Linked DNA regions of Homo sapiens. The protein of the gene in region 4 purifies or fractionates together with the protein of the main gene of each other region. This does not show direct contact. Each region holds a gene or a part of one and is shown on either strand. Other genes may lie near its edges.

The links.
Region 1: the proteins of LIMK1 (region 4) and NUP98 purify together in Homo sapiens (affinity purification with mass spectrometry; one large-scale study listed by BioGRID and IntAct). This does not show direct contact.
Region 2: the proteins of LIMK1 (region 4) and YME1L1 purify together in Homo sapiens (affinity purification with mass spectrometry; one large-scale study listed by BioGRID and IntAct). This does not show direct contact.
Region 3: the proteins of LIMK1 (region 4) and CAD purify together in Homo sapiens (affinity purification with mass spectrometry; one large-scale study listed by BioGRID and IntAct). This does not show direct contact.
Region 5: the proteins of LIMK1 (region 4) and RBFOX3 purify together in Homo sapiens (affinity purification with mass spectrometry; one large-scale study listed by BioGRID and IntAct). This does not show direct contact.
Region 6: the proteins of LIMK1 (region 4) and SLC35E1 purify together in Homo sapiens (affinity purification with mass spectrometry; one large-scale study listed by BioGRID and IntAct). This does not show direct contact.
Region 7: the proteins of LIMK1 (region 4) and MMS19 purify together in Homo sapiens (affinity purification with mass spectrometry; one large-scale study listed by BioGRID and IntAct). This does not show direct contact.

Annotation. Positions count from the first base shown.
Region 1 is NC_000011.10:3,787,555-3,791,054, forward strand, and holds part of NUP98 (nuclear pore complex protein Nup98-Nup96 isoform 1 precursor), read right to left. Parts: intron 1-3,500. UniProt on the Homo sapiens protein: Plays a role in the nuclear pore complex (NPC) assembly and/or maintenance. NUP98 and NUP96 are involved in the bidirectional transport across the NPC. May anchor NUP153 and TPR to the NPC.
Region 2 is NC_000010.11:27,116,385-27,119,884, forward strand, and holds part of YME1L1 (ATP-dependent zinc metalloprotease YME1L1), read right to left. Parts: intron 3,066-3,500; coding exon 2,910-3,065; intron 1,344-2,909; coding exon 1,192-1,343; intron 1-1,191. UniProt on the Homo sapiens protein: ATP-dependent metalloprotease that catalyzes the degradation of folded and unfolded proteins with a suitable degron sequence in the mitochondrial intermembrane region.
Region 3 is NC_000002.12:27,241,369-27,244,443, reverse strand, and holds the end of CAD (multifunctional protein CAD), read right to left. Parts: coding exon 3,048-3,075; intron 2,534-3,047; coding exon 2,321-2,533; intron 2,143-2,320; coding exon 2,017-2,142; intron 1,825-2,016; coding exon 1,669-1,824; intron 1,573-1,668; coding exon 1,471-1,572; intron 1,247-1,470; coding exon 1,152-1,246; intron 1,029-1,151; coding exon 926-1,028; 3' UTR 501-925; downstream 1-500. UniProt on the Homo sapiens protein: Multifunctional protein that encodes the first 3 enzymatic activities of the de novo pyrimidine pathway: carbamoylphosphate synthetase (CPSase; EC 6.3.5.5), aspartate transcarbamylase (ATCase; EC 2.1.3.2) and dihydroorotase (DHOase; EC 3.5.2.3).
Region 4 is NC_000007.14:74,114,804-74,118,303, reverse strand, and holds part of LIMK1 (LIM domain kinase 1), read right to left. Parts: intron 2,503-3,500; coding exon 2,346-2,502; intron 1-2,345. UniProt on the Homo sapiens protein: Serine/threonine-protein kinase that plays an essential role in the regulation of actin filament dynamics. Acts downstream of several Rho family GTPase signal transduction pathways.
Region 5 is NC_000017.11:79,097,052-79,100,551, forward strand, and holds part of RBFOX3 (RNA binding protein fox-1 homolog 3), read right to left. Parts: intron 716-3,500; coding exon of another isoform or gene 695-715; coding exon 641-694; intron 374-640; coding exon 241-373; intron 1-240. UniProt on the Homo sapiens protein: Pre-mRNA alternative splicing regulator. Regulates alternative splicing of RBFOX2 to enhance the production of mRNA species that are targeted for nonsense-mediated decay (NMD).
Region 6 is NC_000019.10:16,562,416-16,565,915, forward strand, and holds part of SLC35E1 (solute carrier family 35 member E1), read right to left. Parts: intron 1-3,500. UniProt on the Homo sapiens protein: Putative transporter.
Region 7 is NC_000010.11:97,491,923-97,495,422, forward strand, and holds part of MMS19 (MMS19 nucleotide excision repair protein homolog), read right to left. Parts: intron 1-3,500. UniProt on the Homo sapiens protein: Key component of the cytosolic iron-sulfur protein assembly (CIA) complex, a multiprotein complex that mediates the incorporation of iron-sulfur cluster into apoproteins specifically involved in DNA metabolism and genomic integrity.

The DNA.
Region 1 (3,500 bases), on a different chromosome or scaffold from region 4:
AGAGCAAGACGCTGTCTCAAACAAAAAAAAAGAACATCATACCCTCTCTAAAAATCGTATCTCCTTTTCTTCCTAAAAATTGTTGCTCAAGCCTCACCTGCTTTCACAAGACTGCCGCACACCCTTAAACTCTTTATTAGTATAAAAACACTTTAAAGGCCGGGCACGGTGGCTCATGTCTGTAATCCCAGCACTCCGGGAAGCAGAGGCGGGCAGATCACGAGGTCAAGAGATCGAGACCATCCTGGCCAACATGGTGAAACCCCGTCTCTACTGAAAATACAAAAATTAGCTGGGCATGGTGGTGTGTGCCTCTAGTCCCAGCTACTTGGGAGGCTGAGGCAGGAGAATCACTTGAATCCAGGAGGCGGAGGTTGCAGTGAGCCGAGATCGGGCCACTGCACTCCAGCCTGGCGACGGAGCCAGAGTCCATCTCAAAAAAAATAAAACACTTTACTTCCCCTCTTCCTTTCCAACCCCGATTACGTAAACTAGTGTCTCTCAGCTGCTTTTAGTTATGCAATATATTTGTTATTATACCTGCCACCTGAGTGTTTTACCTGTCTGCTGCTCTGGGTAAAAAAAATGTCTTGACTTTGCTCACTGGGTGTAAATTAATTTTAAATAGTCCATAGCATCTTACATAAGCTCCTTCCTAATAGCACTGAGCAGCATTTTTTTCATCCCCTTAACATAACCCTAATCATTTTAGAGTGAAGAGTATATTAGCTTTGGTGTGAGACATCTGTATTTAAAACTGTCACTCGGCTAGGCGCGGTGGCTCACACCTGCAATCCCAACACTTTGGGAGGCCAAGGCTGGTGGATCACCTGAGCTCAGGAGTTCGAGCCCAGCCTGGCCTACATGGTGAAACCCCCTGTCTCTACTAATACAAAAATTAGCCTACATGCCTGTAATCCCAGCTACTCAGGAGGCTGAGGCAGGAGAACTGCTTGAACCTGGGAGGTGGAGGTTGCTGTGAGCCCAGATTGCGCCACTGCACTACAGCCTGGGTGACAAGAGTGAAATTCTGTCTCCAAAAATAAATAAATAAATAAATTTCTAAAAGTGAAAGGATATATACCTAACTATTAAGAATCACTGTATAAGGCTGGGCACGGTGGCTCACGCATGTAATCGCACCATTTTGGGAGGCCCAAAGTGGGCGGATCACCTGAGGTCGGGAGTTCAAGACCAGCCTGAGAAGCAAGGAGAAACCCCGTCTCTACTAAAAAATACATAATTAGCCAGTTGTCGTGACGCATGCCTGTCATCCCAGCTATTCGGGAGGCTGAGGCAGGAGAATCGCTTGAACCCAGGAGGCAGAGATTGCAGTGAGCCGAGATCGTGCCACTGCACTCCAGCCTGGATAACAACAGTGAAACTCCATCTCAAAAAAACAACCAAAAAAAAACCTGTCAGTTACCATCATTGACTCTTAAAATCTAAAGTTAATTCAAAATAAAAAGTTAAAAAAATAAAAAATTCCTCTGCCACTTGCTACTGTAAGTCATAATATTCAATCTCTCAGACCTCAATTTCTACATCTGAACAATAGGGATTGTACAGCCTACACCAAAAGACTGGTAGGAGGACAAAGCTGCCTCAAACTAGAGCTCCTCAAAAGCAGCATTTTGTTTATTTTTCAACAGGTATTTTACAGGTATTTATAATTTAAAAAGCATAATAAATGTCCCCTCACTCTAAACTTTGGTTCAATGGCTAGCTAGAATGCCATAATTTCTTATTTCTCAATGCTTAAGTGTCATCCACTGATCACTCAGCACAAGCATAAAGCACCACTGCAAACAAAAACAAATCCCATCCCTGCACAAACACAATATATTGAGATTACTATGATCATTCAACCTCTTCCATCTATCTCACATCTCTGTCTTTATTCCCAACTATCCATCTTTTTAATTTACAAATTCATTTACCTATTTCTTTTTTTTTTTTTTTTTTTTGGTTTTTGTTTTGAGACAAGGTCTCACTCTGTTGCCCAGGCTGGAATGCAGTGGCATGATCATGGCTCACTGCAGCCTGGACCTCCTGGGTTCAACTGATCCTCCCACTTTAGCCTCCCAAAAAGCTGAGACCACAGGCATGTGCCACTATGTTGCCCAGGCTGGTCTCTAACTCCTGGACTCAAGCCATCTTCCTGCTTTGGCCTCCTAAAGTGCAGGGATTATAGGTGAGCCCCTGTGCCAGGCCCATTTACTTATTTTTTATTTATTTATTTTTTTGAGACAGTCTTGCTCTGTTGCCAGGCTGGAGTGCAGTGCAGTGGCATGATCTCAGCTCACTGCAACCTCTGCCTCCTGGGTTCAAGCGATTTCCCTGCCTCAGCCTCTCGAGAAGATGGGACTACAGGCACCCACCACTATACCGGGTTAATTTTTTGTATTTTAGTAGACATGGGGTTTCACCAAGTTGGCCAGGATGGTCTCGATCTTCCGACCTCGTGATCCGCCCACCTCAGCCTCCCAAAGTGCTAGCATTACAGGCGTGAGCCACGGCACACAGCCCCATTTACCTATCAAGAAGGTTGAGTGTGCAAATACTAGTAAGCTCTGTGTCAAACGAAGTAAAATTAAAGATGTGAAGTGATGAGTGACTGTAACATTTACTGAGGATGAACTGTTCCCTTCACGAACAGACCAGCCCTAATTCAGGTGCTCAATTCTTTTCCCCTTGACTAATGATTTTCAAATATTTTTTAGCCATGAAACCCGACATATAAAACAGACATAAGCAGAAGCTGCTCTGGCTGAAGTGAAGAGGGAGTAGGTACAGTAGAACCCCACCAGCTCTGCCCTATGAAGCAGCTTAGGGCTCTATGAACCAATGTGAAATATTGTTCTAGATTAGTGGTTCTCAAAGTGTGACCCAAAGACCCCTAAAAGTCCCCAACACTTCTTCCAGGGGTTCAATGAAATCAAAACCATTTTCACAATAAAACTAAGACACTTTGCCCTTTTTCTTTACTGTTCTGACCTCTGTGCTGATGTGCAAAATCAATGGTGTGCAAAAATGCTGGGAACTCAGCATGAATCAAAGCAACAACCCCAAATGGTGCTGAACTAACACTCACTGAATTCTTCACTGTCACCCATTTACAATATAAAAAATTCCACTTTCACTTAAAAGGGTCCTTAATGAAGCAGCAAAAATTATTAGTTGTATTATTTCTCAACACTACAGCACAATTCTTTTTAATTCAGTATTGGGAAATACTCAAAAACTTCTGCTTACTGAAATACAAAGGATATCAAGGGGCAAACCACCTGTAATTACTTTTGAAAGCTAAATGTAGTTGTTTTTCTCATGGAACACCATTTTAATTTTTTTTTTTTTTTGAGACAGAGTCTGGCTCTGTTGCCCAGGCTGGAGTGAAGTGACGCAATCTCGGCTGACTGCAAGCTCTGCCTCCCAGGTTCACGACATTCTCCTGCGTCAGCCTTCCGAGTAACTGGGATTACAGGCGCCCGCCACCACGC
Region 2 (3,500 bases), on a different chromosome or scaffold from region 4:
GAGGCTGGGTGCGGTGGCTCACGCCTGAATCCCAGCACTTTGGCAGGCGAGGTGGGTGGATCACCTGAGGTTGGGAGTTCGAGACCAGCCTGACCAACATGGAGAAATCCTGTCTCTACTAAAAATACAAAATTAGGCAGGCATGGTGGTGCATGGCTATAATCCCAACTACTTGGGAGGCTAAGGCAGAAGACTCACTTGAAGCCAGGAGACAGAGGTTGCAGTGAGCTGAGATCATGCCATTGCACTCTAGCCTGGGCAACAAGAGTGAAACTCCATCTCAAAAATAAAATACAATAAATAAAATAAAACCAAATTAAATTAAAATAAAATAAAATGTAATGAAAGAAATTCAGATACAGGCTGGGTGCAGTGGCTCATACCTGTAGTCTCAGCACTTTGGGAGGCTGAGGTGTGAGGATCACTTGAGCCCAGGAGTTTGAGAGTAGACTGGGCAACATCGCGAGACTCCATCAATATAAAATAAAATAAAAATTTAAAAAAAATTCAGATACAGTTCTGATATAGTTACATTAAAAACCAGAATTTCAGCACCGTAAGACTGGGCAAAATAAAAAAATACAAACCAGAATTATCATTTAGCTCTCACTAAAGTACTTTATACCATGTTGCTGAAAGCTGGTCATCAGGGGACTGATGAAAAACCAGCAATTAGAGAATAAAAACATCCTTTATAAAGCAACAACAATAGGTGGATAATGCTGCAATAGGACTGTTTTCTCCCCAGGTGCATAGAAATTTTTTAAATGTCTACAATGTTGAAAGATCTGATAAACTTGTACTAAATGATAAAAATCTTAGAGAAACTACTGAATCAGTTACTACAAAACATAATGTTTTCCCTTTTGGGGCAGCGGAGTAATTAGATATTTAAGAATTAGGCAGGGCATGGTGGCTCACGCCTGTAATCCCAGCACTTTGGGAGACTGAGGCAGGTGGATCACCTGAGGTCAGGAGTTCTAGAGCAGCCTGGCCAACATGGTGAAACCCCATCTCTACTAAAATTACAAAAATTAGCTGGGCGTGGTGGTGGGCACCTGTAATCCCAGTTACTTGGGAGGCTGAGGTGAAAGAATCGTTTGAATCCGGAAGGCAGAGGTTGCAGTGAGCTGAGATCGCGCCATTGCACTCCAGCCTGGGTGACAGGGCGAGACACTACAAAAAACTTACATGTCCAAGTGTTGGCCCCCGTGGCATGATTGTAGCTTTGTTGATAGGCATTGCATCTTTTGTGTAATATGCAATAATGGCATGACCAGATTCATGATATGCTGTGATGGTTTTGTTTTTGTTATCAATTTCCACACTTCTTCTTTCAGGCCCTAAGATAAATTTAATTGAGTAAATACTCCATTAGAAAGGTATATTTAAATCAACAAAACACATTCTTGTCTGCAAATCAAATACACTCCACCCTTCCTATCAGCAGATTCTGCATCCATAGATTCAACCAAATAAGGATTAAAACTATGGGGAAGAGGAACAATAAAAAATAATACAAATGAAAAAAATACATTATAACAACTATTTACAGAGCATTTATATTGTATTAGTAATCTAGAGATGATTTGAAGTATACAGGAGAATTATGTAGGTATATGCAAATAGTACACCATTTTATAAAAGACACTTGAGCATCCCTGAATTTTGGTATCCACATGGGTCCTGGAACCAATCCCCACCCCTTCAGTGGATACTGAGAGGTGAATGTATCTGATATGGGATTAATATTATAAAACAAAAAACTCATTCTCCTTAAAGTCATTCTTATTATAGCTCACTCCAACCTTGAACTCTTAGCCTCAAGCAATCCACCCACCTCAGCTTCCCAAAGTGCTGGGATTACAGGCATGTGCCACTGCACCTAGCTTTAGTAATTTTTAGTAATTTTGTTTCTTTTTAAACAGGGTCTGTAACCCAGGCTGGAATACAGTGGCATGATCATGGCTCACTGTAGCTTTAACTTCTTGGACTTAAGTAATCCTCCCACCTAGGACTCCCAAGTAGATGGGACCACAGTCGCATGCCACCCCACCCAACTAATTTTTAAAATTTTTGGTAGAGATGGAGTCTTGCTATGTTGCCCAGCTGATCTTGAACTCCAACGATTCTGGGCTCAAGCAGTCCTCCTGCCTTGGCCTCCCAAAGTGCTGGGATTACAGGTGTGAGCCACCACGCCCAGTCTACAAAGTTTTTTAAAATGGGCAGAATTCATTCCTAACACATACAAACTTTAACAATTTAACTGAAAACCAAAACTGTCAAAACTATCATCTTAATTCAAAAGGGAAAACTTATTTCTATTTCTATAAAATAAACTTCCAGTTTAACAAGAATATCATAATTAATGTGATTTTAAGCCAATCCAAGATTTAAAATCGAAATTAAGCACAGAATAAAGTATCCTTTTTCGCAGCAATGTCTGACAAGAGGAAATGTATACGTGCCTCATCTCCCCACTACCAGTTTAACTATATAATTACATAAGCAACTAGAATATATTTGTTTCGTAAGATGCCAAATTGTGGTGTTGTCAAGTATATATTTTCATGTTCCCATCACTTTTTAAAGCTTTCCAGTCAGAAAAAAAGGTTTTCTAAGAAAGAGACAAAACTAATAAATGTGGTACACTATAAAATCAGTTCTGTATCACTGACAAGATTATTGTCAAGAAAATGTTACAGTTTAATGGCATTTGTTTGATGTTAAGTTGGGAATTTTGTAAAATCATTTATTACAAATCTTGAAAACCCAGACACTGAAGTTTTAGAGTAAGATTAGATTCAACATAGCCATGGCTTTAGCTGTTTGAATAGAGTATTTGCCCCTAAATGAATTATCTAACACAATGAAAAGTAAAAGACAGAAAAAAAAGAAAGGAAACCTACCCATTAGAATTTTGTCTTTGGAAAACTCCAGCTCCTTCATGGTAACCATTTCTTTTCCATCAACAGCTGCTTTTAATGCAGCCTGGTTCACAAGATTCTCCAACTCTGCTCCGGAAAAGCCAACAGTACCTCGAGCTATAATTTCTGGATCAACGGCTAATGTAAAAAGAGAACACAACGCTAATAAGTCTAAAACAGGTAAAAGAAAGCTCTTCACAAAGAACTCACATTCCAACTGGGTGCGTTGGCTCATGCCTGTAATCCCAGCACTTTGGGAGGCTGGGGCAGGCAGATCACCTAAGGACAGGAGTTGGAGACCATCCTGGCCAACATGGTGAAACCCCATCTCTACTAAAAATACAAAAATTAGCTGGGCATGGTGGCATGCACCTGTAATCCCAGCTATTCAGAAGGCTGAGGCAGAAGAATCACTTGAACCCGGGAGGTGGAGGTTGCAGTAAGCCAAGATTGTGCCACTCCACTCCAGCCTAGGCAAAAAGGGCAAAACTCTTGTCTCAAAAAAAAACCAAAAAAAAAAAACACCTCACATTCCAAGGGAAAAAAGAAAATAGCTAGCTATTCTGAGCCATA
Region 3 (3,075 bases), on a different chromosome or scaffold from region 4:
AATGAGATTTCTCCAATGCTACTCAAGTTCACTGGAGGGCACAGCTGCTCCTCAGAAGCCCTCACCCACAGACACATAAGCTACTGCCCTTAGGCTGCTGCCCTGGGGTCTCCAAGCCAAAGTGCTCCTCAGCCCTCCATGGCATCTGCCCCTCTGTCCAATGTCAGGCAGAGGCTCCCAGGGATGGGAAATAGGAGGGGCTCCTAATAGTGACAGTGGCTGAAGAACTCCAGGGTGGTTTTGAGAATGCAATGGCAGCCTTAGCCACTGGAGGAGGACTAACCAGAAAGAGTGAGGAAGAGTCCAGGCCTGGCCTCAGACAGGCCGCAGTGCTCAGCCTTCCTTTTACCCTGATGAGTGTTCTCCCAGTGTCAGGAAGAGGGCAGAACTCTCTGTCAGGTCTTTGAGTCAACTGAATTGAGGAAGGAGGGCTGGACACCAGCCAGAGCCCCCAGGTAAGCGCTGGCATCAGCACGACACAGGACTCAGAGAGCACAGAGTTAACACGCTCCTGCCGAGTCCCAAAGAGTCACGAGTGTGAAAATGCCGAGTGTGGGCACGCAGCCCTAGCCAGAGCCCTGCCTGGTGAGGCTGCTCTTATAATTTGGGAATCTGCTCAATTTTCTAAAAGAAAGCTCTGTTCTACTACACTCAGCATCAAGGGACAGCTCGGCTGTTTATTAAGTCAGTAGAAAAATGACTGTACAGGTTTAAGGTGCAGGAATGAAGATGGGGCAGACTGGGCCCCAGCATCTGAGGCCCCACCCCCATGCCAGAGAGCTCCAGTCCAGAGCCTGAAGTGTGGTCAGCACATGTGAGCTATCTGGATGTCCAGGAATATCTAAGTGTGCTGCCCCCGTAGGAGGCACTGGAATTCCTTGCCCAGCAGCTGGGCCTAAAGAGAAGAGGCTGAGGAAGCCAGGCCCTAGAAACGGCCCAGCACGGTGGCTAACAGAGCCATGCGGATGTACATGCCGTTCTCAGCCTGGCGGAAGTAGGCTGCGCGGGGATCCGAGTCCACTTCCACGCTGCAAAAAAAAAAAAAAAAAAAAAGGAAGTGTTATCGTGCAGCCCATGGATGGCTTGTCCAGGACTAAGTCTCCTCCCGTCCACCAGCCCCGAGGCAGTCTCTGACTCTGATGCTGCACCACCTTATCTCGTTGACACGGGGCATCGGGTGCATCACCACCATCTTCTTCTTGGCCCGGGTCATGATGTGGGGAGTGAGGATGAACTGACCAAAGCACTGCAAAGCAGATGGGGTCCCCATTAGTGCCTTGGGGTAGGAGTGGCTACAGAGGACACAAGTCTGGGCTCCACTGGGGTCCCCTCCACACCCACATGCAGCTATGGCAATTGACAGATGTGAAGTTTAACAGCTCTGACCCAGCCCTCAGCCCAGCCTTTCTGTCCTCATATCTGATGCCCTACGGCAGCAGCCCTGGCTTCTTCCTCAAGCCCAGCACTCACAGCTTCGTACTCCTGGGTAGAGCCAAATCGTTCCTTCTGGATTCGAGTCATGTAGAGCACATCAGTGTCAGGCAGCGCCTCCTCAATGCTCTCGAATTCCTCCTGGAGGGTGAGGAGAGCCATGGTGGATGCAGCGCTGGGCTCTGACTGCCCAACCCACATCTCCATGGCTTCCAGGCAGGGCTGTGAGGGTCTCACCTGCTTGGTGCCGCGGGAGGCCACGAAGGCCCGCACAGTGGGTGGCATGCGCAGGCTGGGAGGTGCCACGTAGCGCAGGCTGACACGATACTGGGTGAGCAGGCAGGCCAGGGAATGTACTGTGCGTCCGTGCTTCAGGTCACCCACCATCGTGATCTAGGAGAGGAATCCAGTCACCACAGGGATCCCAGACTGAGTGCCCCCCGACATCATTTCCAAGCTTTTAAAAGCCTCTGGAGCAGAATGAAGGCCTCCTTGATGCAGCTGTCCTGTACCGGGGTAACCACTTCCTGCCTCCCTCTCTAGATCGTCCCCTGGCAGGGATCCAAACCCTGCCACCACCCTCACCGTCATGCCATTGACAGTTCCCAGCTCCTCACGGATGGTGAAGATGTCCAGCAGGGCCTGGGTGGGGTGCTCTCCGACCCCATCCCCAGCATTGATCACTGGCCTCCGGCAGTGCTTGGCGGCCAGCTGGAAAAAAGGGGAAAATCCTGTCTTTTGCAGCTCAGAGGCCCCCCAACTGCCAGTCCCCCTCTTCTGGGGTCCCCTCACTCATCTGGCCCAAAACACAGAAAACGTGGGCAGAAGGGTTCTCATGCCCCTGGGTCCAGCCTTCTTAACCCCATCTCAGTACCCAGGCTGGCCTCACCTCCACTGCTCCAGGCTGGGGGTGCCGGAGCACGACGACGTCGGCATAGCAGCTCATGGTCTGCACGGAGTCAGCCAGGGATTCGCCCTTCTGGACGGACGATGTGGCTTCCGAGAAGCTGAGCACAGCACCTCCCAGCCGGGCCATGGCTGCTGCAAAGGAGCTGCTGGTCCGTGTGCTCACTTCATAGAACATGGAGGCCATGACCTTCCCCTAGGGAAAGAGCAAGATGGAAGGTGTACGTATGCGTGTCCACCCTGGGGAAACCCCAGCTAGGCACCACCACCCCAACTGACACTTGAGGGGTGCTGTGAGGACCCTTCTGCACCCAAACCTCCCCTGTGACCTGTCAGAGCCTTGACGTTTCCACCACTGGTGTCACTCTGAGCTAAAGGCTCTGCCTCCAGAAAACCACCCATCATTAAGTGTCTGAACGAGCTGGGAAAGGAGGACACACCCTAGCTCTCTCCCATGATTGCAGCAGCCCAGACCAGAAGACCCCACTAGTGGGGCGATGGTCTCATGCTCAGGGCCTCCCCAGCCAGCTAAATCCTGCTTTGGGGAGGGAAAACGTGGGGGAAGATCTACAGCAGCAGAGGGATGGACTAGCATAAGGGGACGGGATGGCAGGGGGAGGAAGACCCACTCTGACCACTGCGCGGCCCTGCGCTGATGCGGCCCAAGGGCAGGCGATGGCCTGGACCCTACCCCCGGCCCTGATCCTGACCTTCAGGATGTCGAGGCTCCGCTCCTTC
Region 4 (3,500 bases):
CTGGGTTCACATCATTCTCCTGCCTCAGCCTCCCGGGTAGCTGGGACTACAGACGCGTGCAACCACGCCCAGCTAATTTTTTTGTATTTTTAGTAGAGATGGGGTTTCATCATGTTGACCAGGATGGTCTCAATCTCTTGACCTCGTGATCCGCCCACCTCAGCCTCCCAAAGTGCTGGGATTACAGGAAGGTTTTTTTTTTTTTCTTTTTGAGACACAGTCTTCCTCTGTTGCCCAGGCTGGAGTGCAGTGGTGCAATCTTGGCCCAATGTAACCTCTGCTCCTGGGTTCAAGTGATTCTCCTGCCTCAGCCTCCCTAGTAGCTGTGCCACCACACCCGGGTAATTTTTGTATTTTCAGTAGAGACAGCGTTTCACCATGTTGGCCAGGCTGGTCTCGAACTCCTGGCCTCAAGCAATCCGCCTGCTTCAGCCTCCCAAAGTGCTGGAATTACAGGTGTGAGCCACTGTGCCTGGCCTATTTTTTGTTTTCTTGAGACAGGGTCTCACTCCGTTGCCCAGGCTAGAAGGCAGTGGTATGATCATAGCTCACTGCAGCCTTGATCTCCTTGGCTCAAGTAAATCTCCCGCTTTGGCTTCCTGAGTAGCTGGGACCACAGGCATTAGGCACCACGCCACATGCCAGGCTAATTTAACTAGGTTAACTATGATGAGGTGATGGCTGGGGTCTGCCTGCCCTGAACCTGTGTTCATGTGTCACCTGCTTGTAGAAGGACTTTATAACCTATAATCTGGGCATATATAGGACCATTGACAGCAAAGAAATGGACTGAGGGAAGCAGACCCTGTGGGAGGCAGAACTATGATCCCCAAAGATGACTGCGTCCTGATCCCTGGGACTTGTATACGTCCCACCTTCCATCGGACTCTGCAGATGGGATTAAGTTGAGGGTCTTGAGATGGAGGGCTGCTTTTGGATTATCCAGGTGGGCCCAATGTCACCGTAAGGGTCCCTATCAGAAGGATGGAGGGCCATGGTGGCTCATGCCTGGAATCCCAGCACTTTGAAAGGTCAAGGCAGGAGGATCGCCTGAAGCCAGGAGTTTGAGACCAGCCTGGGCAACATAGTGATACCCCCGTCTCTATTAAAAATTTAAAAAATTGGCCAGGCGCGGTGGCTCACGCCTGTAATCCCAGCACTTTGGGAGGCCGAGACGGGCGGATCACGAGGTCAGGAGATCGACACCATCTTGGCTAACACGGTGAAACCCCGTTTCTACTAAAAATACAAAAAATTAGCCAGGCGTGTTGGCGGGCGCCTGTAGTCCCAGCTACTCGGGAGGCTGAGGCAGGAGAATGGCGTGAACCCAGGAGGCGGAGCTTGCAGTGAGCTGAGATCACGCCACTGCACTCTAGCCTGGGAGACACAGCGAGACTCTGTCTCAAAAAAAAATAAAAAATAAAAAATAAAAAAATTAGCTGGGTGTGGTGTTGCATGCCTGTGGTCCCAGCTATTCAGGAGGCTGGGGTGGGATGACAGTTTGAGCCCAGAAGGTTGAGGCTGCAGTGAGCTATGGTGGCACCACTGCACTCCAGCCTGAGTAACAGAGCGAGACCCTCTTTAAAAAAGAAAAAAAAAAGGAGGAAGGTTAGAGCCAGGGAAAGAGATGCGGGGATGGATGCAGAGATCAGAGAAGAGAAGATGCTTTGCAGCCAGCCCTGAAGACAGAGGAGGGGGCAGCAACAGGAGGAATGAGGAAGCCTCCACGAGCCAGAAAAGGTCAGGAAACAGGTGCCCCGGAGCCTGCAGAAGGAGCTCACCCTACCGGCGTCTTGATTTCAGCCCGGTGAGGCTGACGCTGGACTTCAGACTCCAGAACTGTATGATCATTTATTTAAGCCACTAAGTGTCTTCTATTTATTTATTTTTTGAGATGGAGTTTCGCTCGTCACCCAGGCTGGAGTGCAATGGCGCGATCTCGGCTCACTGCAACCTCTGCCTCCCAGGTTCAAGCGATTCTCCTGCCTCAGCTTCCCTAGTAGCTGGGATTACAGTACTACAGTACTGGGATTACACCCACCACCATGCCCAGCTAATTTTTGTATTTTTAGTAAAGAATGGGGGTTTCACCATGTTGGCTAGGCTGGTCTCCAACTACTGACCTCAGGTGATCCACTCACCTCAGCCTCCCAAAGTGCTGGGATTACAGGCGTGAGCCACCGTGCCTGGCTGCCACTAAGTGTGTTATAGGAGCAACAGGACCCACAGGGTAACTGAAGAGCCAAGGAGGCTGGGAGGGGCCAGGGGCTTGGGAGGTTACAGCTCTCCTGGGCTCCCCCATGGCTTCCCGTGAGGGCCATGATGGGCAGGGCTGAACCACTCACCGTTGATCATCTCAGGTGCCATCCAGTAGGGGTTGCCCACCACGGTGTAGCGCTTCTTGCGGTCTGGCTTCTTGAGGCTCCGCAGGCCCTCAGGCTGAGTCTTCTCGTCCACCATGAGACGCGCCAGCCCGAAGTCAGCCACCACCACATTCTTGTTCTGGGAAGGTGAAGCCGGGTCATGCTGGGACCCGATCCTAGTACTGCCCGCTTGGCCTGCCCCTCCCCAGGACCCCAAGCCAACCTGTAGACAGCCCAGAGAACATACCTCTGATACGCTGTATTGGCACAGGGTGGGGACCCCTTCCTTCCCCAAACCCATCCGCTCTTTGCAAATGGAGCTGCGGGAAGCACCTGAAGATAGCAGTGTGGCTTCCTCCCTCCCACCACACGCTGCACCCTCTGCCCCCTCCCCACCTGCTCCCCAGACCGTCGTGGCGGACCCACTGCTCCCTCCTGCAAGCGCTCCCTCCCACCTGCGGGGGCACTGATGCTGCTTTGTTTCGGAGAGAAGACAGGAATTCTTTTGTTTTTTTTTTCAGACGGAGTCTTGCTCTGTCACCCAGGCTGGAGCGCAGTGGCGCGATCTCGGCTCACTGCAACCTCCGCCTCCCAGGTTCAAGCGATTCTCCTGCCTCACCCTCCCGAGTAGCTGGGATTACAGGCGCCTGCCACCATGCCTGGCTAATTTTTGTATTTTTAGTAAAGACGGGTTTCACCATACTTGGCTAGGCAGGTTTCGAACTCCTGATCTCAGGTGATCCACCCACTGTGGCCTACCAAAGTGCTGGGATTACAGGTGTGAGCCACTGTGCCCATCAAGACAGGAATTTTGATTATAGACCCAGGTCCTGTGCTTGGCATGCCACCAGATTTACTATTTATTTAGGTTGATTGACTGATTGAGATAGGGTCTTGCTATGTTGCCCAGACTGGTCTTCAACTTCTGGCCTCAAGTGGTCCACCTGCCTCAGCCTTTCAAAGTGCTGGGATTACAGGAGTAAGCCACCATACCTGGCCCAATTTTATCTTTTTTTTTTTTTTTTTGAGTTGGAGTCTTGCTCTATTGCCCAGGTTGAAGTGCAGTGGCACGATCTCAGCTCACTGCAAGCTCTGCCTCCCAGGTTCACGCCATTCTCCTGCCTCAGCCTCCCAAGT
Region 5 (3,500 bases), on a different chromosome or scaffold from region 4:
GTTCTGGGGCTCTGAATGTCCCCCTAAATGCCAGTGACCTCCGCGATGCCCGCCGTGGTGGGGATAGGGGTGAAGATAATGGAGGCAGCTGCAGGGCTGAGTTCTGGGGCTCCCACGATCCTCCCCCCCCCCAGGTCTGGAAAGGCTGCCTAGCCCCTCGCACTGCGCAGGGCCTCCCCATTTCCCTCCTCCCCGCCGTCCTACCCCCTCCTCCACGCCTCCCCCGGCCCAGGTACTCACGCTCCGTAAGTCGGGATGGGGGGTGGGGGTGGCGCAGCCCGAAATGTATTATACACGGCCCGGCCCCGGCCCCGAAGATGTGCGCCCCGGTAGGCAACGGCTGTGCCGGTGGTGGGGTAGGGGAACCCCGTCACTGCAGGAAACGGGGCCCGAGACACGTGTGAGAGGCACAAGGGGACCCACCTGGCACCCCCTCCCCGTACACCTAGCCCCCCCGCGCACCTAGCCCCCAACCCCTCCCCAAGCCCCGCCCCCGGAGCGCTACTCAGTCAACACGGCGACGGGAGGGCGGGGACGGCCCACCTGGCCCCGCCCCTCATGCCCCGCCCCCAGAGCCCCCGGAGCCCCACGGGGCCAAGTAGCTGGTCTCATCCCATCCCCGCCCCGCCCCAGCTTTTACCTGCATAGAATTCAGGCCCGTAGACTGCGCCGACCACTGGATTTAGCTTCCAGCCTAAAACAAAGGCACAGAGACCTAGTCACTGCCTTCCCCGACCCTTTTCCCACCAAAACGTATGCCTGGGAACCCCAGCGACACCGGTGGAGCCCTTGGGAACATTCCCAGGGCGCCTCCCCGCGCCGGGCCCCCCTTTCCCACACTGCCCGGACAAGTGCTGAGTTCAAAACACCAGGGTCTACTCCTTCCTGACTCTTCTGCCTGGGGGTCTGCTAGGATTCTTTCCCAATTGTGATCCTCCTCAGCCTGCCCCTGAGCAACCCTCACCCCTGGGCGTCATCCCCCGAAGCCTGGGGTACCCACCTCCCAGAAGAGAACTGGAGAGGGAAAGTGGAACTTGTTATCTACCCCCCTGAGCACAGCTGGGATGAGGGTTTCTGGAGTCAGACTCAGCACAGCCCCACCATCCGAGCTCCAGGTGGCCAGAGGCTGCAGGAAAGGCGCTTGGACTCTGCCCATAAGCTCTCCCCACTGCCTGCCAAAGTCCCCGTCCTGCTCCCTCTTCCCCGTGCTGAGTCCTGCTCTCACTTTCCTCCCGTCCTCATCTTCCCCCAGAGCGGCTGTCCGGGAGGGTGGCCTGGGAGCAGGTCGAGGAGGAAAGGGCATTTGGACTGGGAATGATAATAAGGATGGGCTGGTTTTCCTCAACACTGTGTGTGAGCCACACAGACTGTTCGAAACTCACGGGGTCCTCCCTGCCCAGTGAGCCACCACACCCTCCCCATTTTGCAGATGAAGAAACAGCCCTGGAGAGGCACAGCAACCTCCCGTCAGCAGCTGGGGAGTGGCAGAGCCAGGGATCCCAGCCTGTAATCGGCATCCCAGCCTCTCCCTTCCTGCAGGTGGGCCAGTCTTCCTCTCCCCGGGGGAACCCAGGAGCAGAGCAAAGACCTGCTCCACCTGGAGGCCTCTGCGGGGGACACCAGCTGCCTTGCAGTGGGCTCCGGCTCCAGGCATTCCGACAGGTTGGGCAGGAGGGCTTCTTGACGAGGCCCAGCCCCTTACCCCTCCTCAGTGTACCCAGGTCTTATCTCTACAGCATGCCCCGTGGGCCCGGCTCCTTGTCCCTTTGCACTGGGTGGGGAGGAACAGCAGGGACGAGAGCCCACTGGCCAGCTGGGGAGATACATCTGGAGAGGGTGGCAGTGGGCCCAGGCCATGTGTGAACCCCTGACCCAGATTCTAACAACCCCACTGCAGGGCAGGCAGACTGGAGGCAGTGAGGACGGAGGGTCGGGGTATGTTCCTCCCTCTGGCCAAGTCTTCACCCCACCCCGCATCCCCGGCCCACCATCACACAACCTTGTGTCTGGACGCCATTGCTGGGACTTTGGAATCTTCCAAAAAGATAAATCCCAGGTTAGGAAGGAAGAAACTTTTTTTGGGGGTAGGGGGGCACAGTTTCTTGCTCTGTTGCCCAGGCTGGAGTGCAGTGGACGATCACGGCTCACTGCAGCCTCGACCTCCTGGGCTCAAGCGATCCTCCTACTTCAGCCTCCCGAGTAGCTTGGGCCACAGGTGCCTGCCACTACACCCACAGCTAATTTTAAAAACTATCTGTAGAGACAGGGTCTCCCTGTGTTGCTCAGGCTGGTCTTGAAGTCCTGGGCTCAAGGGATCCTGCCACCTTAGCCTCCCAAAGTGCTGGGATTACAGGCATGAGCCACTGCATCAGGCTGAAAGAAATGTTTTGTTTTCTGGGAAGACCTCCAGTCCGAAGAACTGACTCTTCTTACTAGAAGGCCCATGATGGAGCAGAGTCCTGGAGACCCTGACCCCAAGCCCAGACTCCCCGGGGCTCCATCCAGTGACTCTTCTGGGTCCACTCTGGGCGAGTGAGACTTGGAGGCTGCATGTGTGCTTCAGATGGCCCTGGGCACCTTCACCTGTCAATTCTGGCTTCCTGGATGCCTCCACCGGTGATTCTGGCTTCCTGGGTGCCCTCCCCTGTCAATTCTGCCTCTCTGGGAGCCTCCACCTGTCTCTGCTGCCTCCATTTCACTGTCTGGAACCCCAGATGGCAGAGACAGCCTGAGACTGCCTGGCTGGCCTGTTTCTACCGTAAATAGTTAACACCTGGGCAAACCTGGTGGGTTTGTTTTCTACAATGGAAACCTCCACCCCCAACTGATGAATTCCAGAGTGTTGGGTAGTGTTGAAGCCAAGTCACGCAGCACTCGCCACCAGAGCCCATGGGTTGGCTTCGGTGCCAACCTGCAGAGAACCCAGGGCCGTCCCACTGCAGCCCTCTGTGCCCAGGCTGATGAAGAGATTGAGATGAAACGGCTCTTGCTGCAAAGGTGGGCAAAGGTTCCCACCTCCCTCCATTCCCTGATGTTTCACTGGTGTAGGTTCCGTGCCCCTCATGAGCCGCATAGCCCGAGGCCATTCAGAGATGGGTCTGTTCTGATTTCCATGCTCCCCTGAATTCTCACTTCTGCCCAGACAGCGGTGGGTGTGGCCCTTGGGTGCAGAGTGGGCAGCTGGTTCCAGAGATTTTGCAGCCCCGCTGGTTGATCACCTGTACCCTATAAAAATGTCTACCGCTTTTACTTCCTGTGCCAAGTGCCAGATCACAGAAGAGTCACACCCAGGACGCACTCGGGATGCTTGCAAAGTGGGAACACTCCCAAATTTTTAAAAAGAATTTGAGATGTGTAAGTCCTCAGAAAAGCAGGATATGAGGCCATGAGAATCAAGTCTAACTTGGGCCAGGCCAGAGGCCCGGCCCCACCCCAGCATCGGACACCAGGAGAAGAGCTCGGGGGAGAGGTGGCGGATCGGGCGGTCCTGTCCAGGCTTC
Region 6 (3,500 bases), on a different chromosome or scaffold from region 4:
TGGTTCTAGGGACCCCTGCGGATGCCAAAATCTACAGATATTCAAGTCCCTTTTATAAAATGGTTTAGTATTTGCATGTAATCCATGCACATCCTCCCATATACTTGAAATCATCGCTAGATTACTTGTAATCCCTAATACAATAAAACTGCTATACAAATAATTGTTATACTGTATTATTTTAAAATGTCTTATTCTTTATTATAGTATTTTGTTTTTCTACCATATATTTTCAATTCGCAGTTGGCTGAATCCACTAGTGTGGAACCCACAGATATGGAAGGATGACTGTATGTTTATATTTATTTTTGAGATAGGGTCTTGCTCTGTCATGCTGGCTGGGGTGCAGTGGCTCAAACATGGCTCACTGCAGCTTTGACCTTCCCGGGCTCAAGTGATCTTCCCACCTCAGGCTCCCAAGTAGCTCGGACTACAGGCATGTGCCACCATGCCGGGTTAATTTTTGGTTTTGTTTTACGTAGAGACGGGGTTTCACCATGTTGACCAGGCTGGTCTCAAACTCCTGAGGCTAAAGCAGTCTGCCTGCCTCTGCCTTCCAAAATACTGGGATTACATGTGTGAGGCACTGTGCCTGACCTGTAAATTTAAAAAGCTACTTTTTGGGCTGGGCGTGGTCGCTTACGCCTATAATTCCAGCACTTTGGGAGGCCGAAGTGGGTGGATCACCTAATGTCAGGAGTTTGAGACTAGCCTGGCCAAAATGGAGAAACCCCACCTCTAGTAAAAACACACAAAAAATTAGCTGGGCGCGGTGGTGGGTGTCTGTAGTCCCAGCTACTCGGGAGGCTGAGGCAGGAGAACTGCTTGAATCCGGGAGGCGGAGGCTGCAGTGAGCCGAGAACATGCCATTGCATTCTAGCCTAGGAGACAGAAAAACTCCGTCTCAAAAAATAAAATAAAATAAAATAAAATAATAAAATAAAAAGCTACTCTGTGTGTAATAAGGACAGAGGGTGATTATACATGCAAATTTGCTTATATTTGCAAAAATATGGAACAGGTGAACTAGGAGCCTAAGAAATGTTATCCATGGTCAGGGAGGGGACAGGGAGAGTACAGGAATCATGACCAGACTTCTTCTTTTTTTTTATTTTTATGAGACAGTCTCACTTTGTCACCCAGGTTGGAGTGCAGTGTCGTGATCTCAGCTCACTGCAACCTCCACCTACCTAGTAGCTAGGATTATAGGCGTACGCCACCACACCAGATAATTTTTATATTTTTTCTAGAGATGGGGTTTCCCCACGTTGGCCAGGCTGGTTTCGAACTCCTGGCCTCAAGGGATCCACCTACCTCGGTCTCCTAAAGTGCTGGGATTCCAGGTGTGAGCCACCACACCCAGCCTGCAAAGAAATACTAACCTTTTCTCAGCACTCCAGTTGCAATTGTGCTGTGAGAATGCTCATTCTGAAGCAATTATATGAGTGAGTGTACAGTAGAATAACATCAGTGAATAACGGGTAGAATAAGCAACTAAGAAACGAGGAGCGGAACCAAGCATACCAGCGACGAGATCTAAATATGAAATTCAAAACAGCAAAGATCTGGACTGTTCAACTGAAAGTGACGCTAATTGCTAGGAACTCTTTGCTGCTGCCCCAAGTGTGTACTTCCTAATTTTTCACAGTAAAGGCCTAACAACAATGACCACCCAGCAGCAAAAAGCACCCATGGCACCTGGATTGTGTCTCTAAATACCGCTCCCCACTAACGGCACCTGGAGTCCTGAAGGAGGGGCTGACTGCAGCTCTGGGATGGGAAGTACACAAGGTGAAGGCGGGCATCCCGCTGGGAGAAACGCTGACCCACAGTGCTAGAAGGGCAAGGAGCCAATCAGAAGGGCTCCAATGGCTAAGACAGGACAATTTTTTTTTCTTCTTTTTTTTTAAGATGGAGTCTCGCTCTGTCGCCCAGGCTGGAGTGCAGTGGTACGATCTCAGCTCACCGCAACCTCCGCCTTCCAGGTTCAAGCAATTCTCCTGCCTCAGCCTCCTGAGTAGCTGGGATTACAGGCGTGCACCACCATGCCTGGCAAATTTTTGTATTTTCTGTAGAGATGGGGTTTCACCACGTTGGCCAGGCTGGTCTTGAACTCCTGACCTCAAGTGATCTGCCCACCTCGGCCTCCCAAAGTGCTGGGATTACAGGCTGGAGCCACTGCGCCTGGCCAAGACAGGACAATTTGACTAGGAAAACGAATAATTCATGCAACTGACAAACACATAAAAGTTCACAATGATGCTGGAGAAAAAAAGAGAACCCCTTCCCTACCCCCAAACAAACCCTCAACTCTGGTCAACATTTGGAGTAAGCTCCAACTCTCTATCCTGAAAATTAGTCATCAAAAGGAACAGTTAAGCATTAAACTGCCTTTCTCGTACCATACTTCAAGGTAACAAACTAGTCCTGGAAGATGGAAAGTTCTTCACAGAAGAATTACAGCTCATCAATGTGAAACGAAAGTTAGAAAAGTGAGCCATGGTTTACTGATTGGGAAAATAGAGGTAATATCCACTACTTCAGCAGGTGGAGCCAAGGATTAAAGATAAGAAATGTCACAAATCCAGCTAGACCACATTAAGACCTCAATAAATATTTACTTTTCCTTTCTAACTCGAGTCTGGAAGAATCGCACTGGCCTCCTCCTCACCGCAGGCACTTGCATTCATTTATAACACATTCTCTGAAGGCAGACCCTGCAGGTGGCAAAAAGATTCGACGTGGAGTAAATGGAAACAGAGACCAGGGAGGAACTGAGCTGCACAGTTTTCTTTCTTTCTTTTTTTTTTTTGAGACGGAGCTTCACACTTGTTGCCCAGGCTGGAGTGCAGTGGTGCGATCTCGGCTCACTGCAAACTCTGCCTCCTGGGTTCAAGCGATTCTCCCACCTCAGCCTCCCAAGTGGCTGGGATTACAGGCGTGCACCACCACGCCTGGCTAATTTTGTATTTTTAGTAGAGACAGGATTTCACCATATTGGTCAGGCTGGTCTCGAACTCCTGACCTCAAATGATTCACACACCTTGGCCTCCCAAAGTGCTGGGATTATAGGCGTAAGCCACCACACCCAGGCAGCGCATGTTTTTTTCTTTTTTTTTTGACACGGAGTCTCCCTCTGTCACCCAGGCTGGAGTGCAGTGGCACCATCTCGGCTCACTGCAACCGCCACATCCTGGGTTCAAGCAATTCTTCTGCCTCAGCCTCCCAAGTAGCTGGGACTACAGGTGCGAGCCACCATGCCTGGCTAATTTTTGTATTTTTGGGAGAAACAGGGTGTCACCATATTGGCCAGGCTGGTCTCAAACTCCTGACCTCGTGATCCGCCCGCCTTGGCCTCCCAGAGTGCTGGGATTACAGGCGTGAGCCACTGCGCCCGGCTTTTTTTTTTTTTTTTTTTTTTTTTGGCCAGTGCATAGTTTTCAAAGTTCCAGGGCTGGCAAGGCACAGTGGCTCACATCTGTAATCCCAGCACTTTGGGA
Region 7 (3,500 bases), on a different chromosome or scaffold from region 4:
CTCAGGTCAGGAGTTTGAGACCAGTCTGGCCAACGTGGCAAAAACCTGTCTCTACTAACACAAAAACTAGCCGGGTGTGGTAGCGCATGCCTGTAATCCTAGCTACTCCGAAGGCTGAGGCAGGAGAATCACCTGAACCTGGGAGGCAGAGTTTGCAATGAGCTGAGATCATGCCATTGCACTCCAGCCTGGGCTACAGAGTGAAACTCAATCTAAAAAAAAAAAAAAAAAAAAGTATAAAAGTAGAAAAAATTAGAGAAAAATGAGGCCGGGCGCGGTGGTTCACGCCTGTAATCCCAGCACTTTGGGAGGCCGAGGCGGGCGGATCACGAGGTCAGGAGATTGAGACCATCCTGGTTAACACAGTGAAACCCTGTCTCTACTAAAAAAAAATACAAAAATATTAGCTGGGCGTGGTGGCGGGCGCCTGTAGTCCCAGCTACTTGGGAGGCTGAGGTAGGAGAATGGTGTGATCCCAGGAGGCAGAGCTTGCAGTGAGTGGAGACGGAGCCACTGCACTCCCACCTGGGCGACTGAGTGAGACTCTGTCTCAAAAAAAAAAGAAAAGAAAAGAAAGAAAAAATTAGAGAAAAATGAGATAATAAAGCTATTACAAGACCGTAAAAAAAAGTAAGGAAGATGGTGGCCAGGCATGGTGGCTCACACCTGTAATCCTTGCACTTTGGGAGGCCGAGGCAGGTGGATTACTTGAGGTTAGGAGTTTGAGACCAGCCTGGCCAACATGATGAAACCCTGTTTCTACTAAAAAAAAAAAAAAATAGAAAAATTAGCTGTCCATGATGGCATGGGCCTGTAATCCTAGCTGTTTCGGAGGCTGAGGCAGAAGAGTCATTTGAACCCAGGAGGCTAAAGTTGCAGTGAGCCAAGATCGCGCCACTGCACACCAGCCTGGGCAACAGAGCAAGACTTCATCTCCCAAAAAAAAAAAAAAAAAAGCCATATGTTCGTTTTCATTCAACATTTACTGAATATTATAAATAGGGTACCATGTTAGGGCTTAAGATAGAAATATGGGCAGGGAGTTTTGGGGAAGTCCATAGTCTGTTGGAGCAGAAAGACAAACATTCATTCATTTATTCATTTTTGAGACAGAGTCTTGCTCTGTCACCCAGGCTGGAGTGCAGTGGTGCCATCTTTGGCTCAATGTAACCTCTCCCTCCAGGGTTCAAGTGATTCTCCTACCTCAGCCTCCCAAGTGGCTGCGACTACAGGCACACCACCATGCTGGGCTGATTTTTAAAGATTTTTGTAGAGACAAGGTCTCACTATACTGTACAGGCTGGTTTCGAATTCTTGGGCCCAAGCAATCCTCCCACCTCAGCCTCCCAAAGTGCTGGGATTACAGGCATGAACCACCATGCCTAGCCCAGAAAGACATTTAAAACAATCACAGTAGGCTGAGGCTAGAGGATCGCTAGAGGTCAGGAGTTGGAGACCACCTTGGGCAACAAAACAAGGCCCTGTTCGCTACAAAAAAATTAGCCAGGTGTGGTGGCACGGGCCTGTAGTCTCAGCTACTCTGGAGGCTGAGGCCAGAGGATCACTTGAGCCCAGAAGTTCTTCGAGGTCACACTGCACTCCAGCTGGGGCAACAGAGTGGACCCTGCTTCTAAAATAAATAAATAAAACAATCACAGTGTAACAAGTTCTGTGTTACCACAGTGATATAAACAGAGATTGGGTTGGCATGAGAAAGAAGTAAAATTCCTGGGTTTATGGACCATGGGCCACTAACTTTAAGTGATTAATTCTTTTAATGGTGCAAATTATCCAAAATTAAAAATAACCAGGGTTGGCATGGTGGTTCACACCTGTAATCTCAGCACTTTGGGAGGCCAAGGCAGGCAGATCACCTGAGGTCGGAAGTTTAGAGACTTGCCTGACCAACATGGAGAAACCCCATCTCTACTAAAAATACAAAATTAGCCGTGTGTGGTGATGCATGCTTGTGATCCCAGCTACTCGGGAGGCTGAGGCAGGAGAATCACTTGAACCTGGGGGGCAGAGGTTACGGTCAGCAGAGATCGCACCATTGCACTCCAGCCTGGGCAACAGAGCAAAACTCCATCTCAAAAGCAAACAAACAAACAACAACAACAACACACCCGTAATACCTGGAAATACTATTAATTATGCACTTGGACTCCTGGGATGAAGAAAGCTAACAGAGAGTTAATTTTCCTAACGGTATTTTCGCTGGTATCAAGGAAAAAATCAGTGTAAGTTCATTTCCCTTTATAGGAGGGTCTAAGATTTTCCAACACGTTCAAGATTTGCTCTTAAAAATGGACCTACTAGCACCTCCTAACTACCCACACTTTCCTTAGCAAGGCACCAGTTTGTGTGGGGGCACTGAGAAGTCAAAGGAGTATTCATGTGATCATTGACACAGAATGCACAAACAGATCTCTGTCTGATGGAGTTGAAGCCTCTTGAGAATCTGGACTAGCAGCCAAAGGGAAGTGAGGGGAAGCGGGTAGGGTGGGAGGATGAGAAGGAGCAGGAGAGAGAAAAATCCCAATCAGGACTAAGTTCCAATCAAGCTCTCAAAATGCCCTTTCTGCTGATAATGCCTCAGATATTTCACTAAACTGTATTTTACTGTTCTTTAATACTTTGACTTAAGGAATAGAGGTATTCTTAGGGAATCACAAACATGGAAAAACACAATACAATAAAGACTGAAATGAAGGAAAATCCAAATAACTAAAAGGAAAAAAATTATATCCATCACCTGCAAATTCAACGTGTTCAAAAATCACATTCTCTGAAAATCAGCTCTCGTCCTAATTTTGGACAAAGTATTTCTTTTCCTCATCCTCTGGTTCAAAACCTTGGGGTCTTCTTAGAGTCCTCTATCTCCTTCAAGCCCTATAATAACTAGTTAGAACTCAAATTCCACAGATTCTTCCTTCAACATTTCTCATTGCATTCACTCAAGCAGTTTTTATTGTGTACCTACTGATGCCAATTTCAGGAGATTCTGGTGGTACAACTGGGAGGGTAGGATGTGGAGATGTATACAGCAACAGCTACTAAACTAGTCCACTAAATACATGAGTGGTTGAGAAATAAGTGCGTACTACAAAGATTCTGACGTATGAGATGCTGTCTGGCTGGGTTAATCAGGAAACCCTTGGGGAGGGGTAGGGAACTCAAGCTGGGCCTTGACTCTCAGGTCTAACTTCGATTACACAGAGCTAGTGAAGGGAATTGGGAAGGAAAGCACTCAGGGAACTACGAATAAAGGTGGCTGCCTGGAATTAAACGTCCAGGGAGCAGTGAGAAAAAAAGGCTGGGGCCAGGTAGTGGCAGGCTTTGAAGGCTTGCCCAAGAGGCCTTTAACCCTTAGGCTGCCAGGTTATTTCCCTCCCATCGCCTGCAGCTTCTTTACAGCTGACACTTTCACCAGGAACCCAGGTACAAAACAAAGGTGGCAGCAGCTGCTTTTGTGATCAAAGGGTGCTCCTTCTGCATTT